Linked DNA regions of Homo sapiens. The protein of the gene in region 1 interacts with the protein of each later gene in a biochemical or structural test. Each region holds a gene or a part of one and is shown on either strand. Other genes may lie near its edges. The genes, in order: CUEDC1 and MFHAS1.

Region 1 (3,816 bases):
CCTCGGCCCTGACTCCATCTCTTTCGGTTTCAGGTGGGACCATCCGTGAAACCGGTGCCAGGATGCACCGGGGGTGTGGATGACCGGCCGCCCAGCCCCAGCACGGCCCGGTCCCGCATGCCACCGCCCCGCGAGGACCGCTCTCCAAGGGCTGCCTGGGGCCCCGCGCCCGTACTCTCCTAACCCGGAGCTCTTGGCAGCCCATTGCTGCCTGGCTACCCGGGGAGGAGGAGGCGCAGGAGTGAGCTGCCCGAGACCGCAGGGCAAGTAAGCGGCTGACGGCGGAAAGACCCTGGGGAAGGGGCTTTGCGGCCGGCTAGAAACATTTTCCCCAAGCGGCTCCGCAAAATGACCAGCCTGTTCCGCCGGAGCAGCAGCGGCAGCGGCGGGGGTGGCACCGCCGGGGCACGCGGGGGCGGGGGAGGCACGGCCGCCCCCCAGGAGCTCAACAACAGCCGGCCTGCCCGCCAGGTGCGCCGCCTGGAGTTCAACCAGGCCATGGACGACTTCAAGACCATGTTCCCCAACATGGATTACGACATCATCGAATGCGTGCTGCGCGCCAACAGCGGCGCTGTGGACGCCACCATCGACCAGCTGCTGCAGATGAACCTGGAGGGCGGTGGCAGCAGCGGCGGCGTCTATGAGGACAGCTCCGACTCGGAGGACAGCATCCCCCCGGAGGTAGGGGCGCAGCCCGGGTAATTCCAACCACCACTGGAGGACAGCATCCCCCCGGAGGTAGGGGCACGGCCCGGGTAATTCCAACCACCACTGGAACCTCTAAGAGGACCTGGGTTACTCCGCTATCTGGGTTCTAATTAGCAAGCAGCCTTACTTCCCCTAGGGAAAAGTACCATCCGTCAGTCACCTTATTTTATGGGCAGAAATCATGCAGTCATTCAACAAACACTGAGCGCCCACTCAGTGGTGTGCGAGACGTGGCACTAGACCCTGAGTCAGGAGGCATCAGAATCAAGGTGCTTGTTAAAAATGCAGGTGCCTGGGCCCCACCCCAACATACTGAACTCCACATCAGGCGTAGAGTCCGCTAGTGGCCAAGTCAGACCAAATTTCTGCCCTCCTGGAGCTCACAGTCCAGTGTGGACTAGAAGCGCGAGTCGGGTACTGACGGCCAGAGTGGTAAGTGCTCGATGGAGACGTGGAAGCAGCAGAAAGGAGTGACTTCCCAGAGGAAGCGATGGCTAAGCCGAAACCCTAAGCTGAGACCCAAAGGAAGAGTGAAGCCGGGGGAAGGGTGTGCAGGCAAAGGGAACAGCTTGTGCAGAGTCTGGGAGGTGAAATAGTGCCTCACTGGCTAGGGAACTGGCAGCAGGACCATCTGTCAGGGTCCTAGAGTGAGAGGAGATCAATGAGGTTGACAAAGCCCTGACGCTGAGAAAAAGAGTGCGGCTGGGGCCGGGCGAGGTGGCTCATGCCTGTAATCCCAGCACTTTGGGAGGCCGAGGCAGGTGGATCATGAGTTCAGGAGTTCGAGACCAGCCTGGCCAATATGGTGAAACCCCATCTCTACTAAAAATACAAAAATTAGCCAGGCGTGGTGGTGCGCACCTGTAGTCCCAGCTACTCGGGAGGCTGAGGCAGGAGAATCGCCTGAACCCGGGAGGCAGAGGTTGCAGTGAGCCGAGATCATGCCACTGCACTCCAGCCTGGGTGACAGAACAAGGCTCCGTCTCAAAAAAAAAAAAAAAAAAAAAAAGAAAAGAAAAAGAGTGCGGCTGTATCCTGGGAGCATAGCCACGGAAAGGGAGTGAGGAATCAGACTTGCCAGTTAAATCCCTCTGACTGTGGCCTGATGGAAACAGTAGTGAGCCATAGCCAAGCAGTCTCTCCAGGGAAGTGGCTGGAGAGAGGGGACCTGCGTACTGCATCAGTACCCACCTGCTGGAGGTTGTGAGTCCTTTCCAGTCCCACCCGAGTTCAGTGGACATCTGGCCACCCAGTATCAGCAGAGCCTGAGGTGCTTGGTGCAGAAGGATGAGGCACACAGAGCCTGTTAATCAGAGGGGTGTTGTCCACAGGGCCATCTGGGACATGCAGCCATGGACAAGACCAGGACCCAGCAGGATTTAACTCCACTCTTTATTGAGTCCCGACCCGTGCCAGGCATCATCCTAAGTGCTTTAGATGTATCATATCTTCTTTTTTTGTTTGTTTTTTTGTTTTTTTGAGACAGAGTCTTGCTCTGTCGCCCAGGCTGGAGTGCAATGGCGCGATCTTGGTTCACTGCAACCTCCACCTCCCAGGTTCAAGCGATTCTCCTGCCTCAGCCTCTCGAGTAGCTGGGACTACATGCATGTGCCATCATGACCGGCTAATTTTGTAGTTTTAGTAGAGATGGGGTTTCACCATGTTGGCCAGGCTGGTCTCGAACTCCTGACCTCAGGTGATCTGCCCGCCTCGGCCTCCCAAAGTATTGGGATTACAGGCATGAGCCACTGCACCTGGCCCGATGTGTCATCTCTTCTAATCCTCACAAACTTTGTGCTGTGGCATTATTATTACCCTTGTTCATCAGCCATCCTGCAGGGCAAAGTCTCCTTGCTTTTCCTCCTTAGTGGGTGCTGCTGAGACTTCCCCTAGAGGTGGAAAAGCTCTGTTGGCCAAGACATCTGGCTCATCCCTGTGTCATCTGCAGCACCCAGGACAATCCACGCACATAGCAAGCACTCAGGGAGTGTTTGTTGAATGAGTACGTGTTGCTGCTGTCTTTGTACAGTTTTCTATTGTCTCTCTCCTTGGGAGACCACTCCTTTGATCTGCTTGGAGTAGGTGGTGGAAGGAATATTGGAAAATATGGATCCTCTTTGTAGAAAGAAGGAGAGAGAGAGAGTGAGAGTATGCGTATGTATGTGTGTGTCTGCAGATACAGTTGACCATTGAACAATGCAGGGGTTAGGGGCAGTGAATCCTCCCCTTGCAGTCAAAAATCCACTTTTTAATATAACTTTTGATTTTCCCAGAAATTGACTGCTAATAGCCTATCGTTGACCTCAAGCCTTAACTCAAGCCTTAACATAAACAGTCGACTAACATATATTTTGTGTGTTGTATGTATCATATACTGTATTCCTACAATAAAGTAAGCTAGAGACAAGAAAATGTTAAGAAAATCATAAGCAAGACAAAATATATTTTCTACTCATTAAGTGGAAGTAGATCATCGTAAAGGGCTTCATCCTCATCTTCTCACATTGAGTAGGCTGAGGAGGAGGGACAGGAGGGGTTGGTTTTGCTGTCTCAGGGGTGGTGGAGGTGGAAGAAAATCTACCTATAAGTGGACCCACGCAGTTCAAACTCTTGTTATTTGAGAGTCAACTGTATATGCTTTAAGTGTGAACTGGAAGGAAAGCTCTCTGCAAGCTCTGACCCTTTCTGCAGTCTGATTTGCCCTGACAGTCTGGCAGGTAGGGTAGTATTTTCTCCTTTGTCCATGGCCCCCACAGTCCTATAGACCTCTGCAAGGCTTCACCACCCCCTAGGTAGGCCCTTGCTGTGTGTGCACTTCTGTTTTTCTAAGAATCTTGCTCTCCAAATTGAGCCCCCTCCCGGTACCCCTCCCCTCCCTTGGCAGTCTCCCCAACCCCCCACCTTTGGAACTCTGCCTGGGCCCATAGGCAGGCAGCTCCTGAGCCAGCGGAAAGTGCTTCGGAAAATTTATGAGCCACAGCTGGAATGACAATAACTGCTGACTGGAAAAAAAAACCCTTTCTGGGGGCTGATGGATGGTGGGCTGGCCCGAGGGGTATCCTTGCCATGGAGAAGTATCTCCTGTCAGATAAATGGCCTAGACCC
Region 2 (3,816 bases), on another chromosome or scaffold:
ATCCTGTTGGTTTGGGTTTTATGTATGTGTGTTTTTCGTTTTGTTTTGTTTGTATTAAGAACCAAAGAGGCCGCTTTTAAGCTGAGATGAAATGCCTGTTACTTCAAATCCTGAAAAGCAGCAGCCACAGATCTTCTTGGGTCAGATCTCATGATCTGGGTGATGTCAGCACCATGATTTCTCCAGCATAGTATTCATATCCATGCAGCAAACTCGACTCTTTCTTCCTAGCTGGCCACATGGAATTTTTTAATGAAAAAATTATGTATGAATCTAAGCCTGTTTTTAGGGAGCTTGGAAAGTGCGCCTTTGGGAATTGTGACCTGTCATCTCCTCTTGGGAAACTTGCTGTCCGGCTGCATTCCAGGCAGTGTGACAGGCATCCATCTCACCCCTCACATGGCAGCTTCCCTGCCTTTGGTGTGCTCCCTGCAAAGCGAGGGTTCCCAGTGGCATTCTTACTCATTAGCTGCTGCAGTAGAAGTAGAGGGCACTCGGCTCAGTGCCCCGTTTCTCCAAACTGGGAAACTCATTACATAGAACATCCCTAATCTATCCTTGCTGGAAAATATCACCGAACACCCAAGGGAAACTGTTATCTAATGCTCTTGTATTCAGAGTACTATTTAACTATCATGTGCATAGTTTAATTTATCACTGACCCTAAGACATTGTGAATCTTGAAGTGCTTCTTAAATATTAAAATAGGATTACAGAATAACTGTTAAAAGTAATTGCACAATTACTTTTGCACCAACCGAATATTAACCTGAATATCCCCTGTCCTGAACATATCAAACAACGGAAATTTTATTGTTTCTCTTTTAATTTCTTTGAAATTGTACATATTGGTCCCTTTCTTTCAGATACACCTGGGTGAGGATGGATAAGGGGATATTATATGTTTTCTTTTTCTTCTGTCTCTTTTTTTTAATACCCCGCAAGTTCTTAAAGCTCAAGGGGATATTACAGAACCAGCAAGGTATGAAACAGAGGAAACAAAAATTCAATATACTTTGCATTGGCGTAAACTTTCCAGAGCCAAGAGAGACATGAACCTATTGTTTTGCCATAGCCAAGTGCCGTCGAATAGGTGCGATAGAGGTAGGAGTTAAAATATCCATTTGCGCTAGAAACCTTCCTGGCACCAAGCCAGCTTTATCAGTGTTTTCCCATGGGCTTCTTGTACTGCCGCAGAAAGACCACGTTTATACCAACCTGAAAAAAATGTTATCAGCCTCTCTCTCGACAGCGTATTGAACCTGAACGAACAAGCAGCCTAAAGTCATGGGTAAGCGGCGGTACATGGCGCCAGACATCCAAATGCCGAGGAAGCCTCTTTAGGCATTGAACCACTTTTGACCTAGCTATCAGAATCATTTTATTTTGAAAGAGGTTAAAAAAAAAGTCTCATGAAATGGATGACAGCTTTGCAATATAATTCTCAACTCTAAATGAAGGAATGTTCTCTAAGTAGGGAAGTTTCATATTCCTGGCAAGACGTTTCTTGGAAAATTACCATATTTTAGTGCAGCTGCAAGGGGTAAATGATCTCTTGTGTGACTTTATAGAAAAGCACACGTAGATGTGAAGCCTGTGCTCGAGCTGCCCAGTGTTCCCCCACCTTCACCGCCTTAAGCACCCACAGTTTACATCCATGAACACATGGACAAAAACAAACTCATGTGGAGGCCGGGCCAGGCTCCGGGGAAGGTCCCATTCATGGGTGGTTGACAGTGGATTGGAAGCGGGAGATTTGGGGGGATCGGTTAGGATAGCTGGCAAAGAATCTGTGCTTAAGTCAACACAGCTTGGGCCTGAGCCTGAGACTTGGGGTCTCAGCAGGCACTAGACATTGGAAGTCCGGGGCTATTGCACTGGCTTTCAACTCCAGCCGAGGTAACTTAAGCAGGTCACCATAGAGGTCAGGCTTTTTTTTTTCTTTTTTGACAAAGGGTCTCACTCTGTCACCCAGGCTGGAGTGCAGTGGTGCGATCTCAGCTCATTGCAAACTCCACCTCCAGGGTTCAAGTGATTCTTCTGCCTCAGCCTCCTAAGTAGCTAGGACTACAGGCGCACACAACCACACCTAGCTAATTTTTTGTATTTTTTGGTAGAGACGGGGTTTCATCATGTTGGCTGGGCTGGTCTCGAACTCCTGACCTCAAGTGATCCATCTGCCTCAGCCTCCGAAAATGCTGGGATTACAGGCATGAGCCACCGTGCCCAGCCAAGGTCAGGCTTTCTTAATCAGACCTGTTAAGTTAGAATTTCTCAGGGAAGGGACCAGGCATGAGTCACTAAAAAACAGAAGAAGCCACCCAGATGAGTCTAACGTGTGTACACGACTTTCTGATGGTTCAGTTCCAGTCCATGCCTCTAAGGGTGGGTTCCCTGGCCAGTGGGGCCTTAGGACTGCTCTGTGGTCAATACCTGCTCTGCAGCACAAAGGCAAAACTGTCCATGCTGTCTGCTCTCAGCCTCAGCACAGTCCCTCCCACTCTCAGGTAAGGTGAACATATCACTCACTGTTCAAATCAGGAGAGGATTGAGAGTGATGGGACGGCTGTCAGTCATGTTGGGATGATGGGTGCCCTAGAGAAAGCTCCCAGGTAGACCAGAATAATTACCCTAGGTGATTGCTGGCTTTTGTGGGGCTTAGGTGGCTGATCTGGATCTCATGATGGTTTTTAAAAAGACATTCCAAGCTCTTCTTTGGCTGGTTTAGCCCTCTCCTTTATTGGTCAAATCAGAGACTTGTCATTTAACTGCCTGTCTTTGACTAATGGTGCTGCAATGCTTTCTTTATAAAGAAGAAACTGTAGATGACTGTTACCTGATTGGCCTTTTTTAAATGAATTCCAAGCTTTTCTATTTCTTATTTTAAACAATTTGTAGACATTTTATTCCCCCATGGGGAGAGACAGAGAATAAGAAGTAGGTAGTGATATTTTTTTTTTTGTTTTAACAACATGATTTACTCTTATAACTTGTCTCAGTGGATTGGTGGTTGAGGTCTCCACCAGCGTTTCATTGGGAAGAGGTTTCAGGAACAGGATGAAATGCCTCCCCTTCTGCACCTCACCCTCCAGGGAGAAACAGGAGCTGAGTGGCTTCTTCTCCCCCTTGCTGATTATCAGATAGAAATGTGAGTCATTTCCATGCTTTGAATATCTTGAGATGATTTTCAAGGATATCTGCATTTAAGATGAGGTGAACATTCACCTAGTAGCAAATTTGCCTGGGTCGCTCTGAAAAATTCTGGCCTCCTCAAGGATACAGATTGTGACAGATACATTTTTAAAAGCTTTATTGATGTATAATTTCCATACCAGAAAATTCACCTGTGCAATGATTACTAACGTATTTGCAGAGTTGTATTTATACAACCATCACCACAATCTAATTTTAGAACGTTCCTTCACCCCAAAAAGAAATCTCCTGCCTATTTGCAGTTAACTTGTGTCTTATCCAACACCTAGTTCATGCAGTCAGTAAGTTTTTTTTGGTTTGTTTTTTTGGTTATTTTTTTGAGATGAAGTCTCACTCTGTAGCCCAGGCTGGAGTGCAGTGGCGTGATCTTGGCTCACCACAACCTCCGCCTCCTGGGTTCAAGCAATTCTTCTGCCTCAGCCTCCAGAGTAGCTGGGATTATAGGCACACGCCACTGCACCTAGCTAATTTTTTATTTTTTGTATTAGTAGAGAAGGAGTTTCACCATGTTGACCAGGCTGGTCTTGAACTCCCGACCTCAGATAATCTGCCCGCCTTGGCCTCCCAAAGTGCTAGGATTACAGGCGTGAGCCACGCGCCCGG

What was found.
Region 2: the proteins of CUEDC1 (region 1) and MFHAS1 form a complex in vitro, tested with the Homo sapiens proteins (one large-scale study listed by BioGRID and IntAct).

Annotation. Positions count from the first base shown.
Region 1 is NC_000017.11:57,882,097-57,885,912, reverse strand, and holds part of CUEDC1 (CUE domain-containing protein 1), read left to right. Parts: intron 1-33; 5' UTR 34-348; coding exon 349-684; exon of another isoform or gene 685-741; intron 742-3,816.
Region 2 is NC_000008.11:8,792,322-8,796,137, reverse strand, and holds part of MFHAS1 (malignant fibrous histiocytoma-amplified sequence 1), read left to right. Parts: intron 1-3,816. UniProt on the Homo sapiens protein: Probable GTP-binding protein. Functions in innate immunity and more specifically the inflammatory response as a regulator of the Toll-like receptor TLR2 and TLR4 signaling pathways.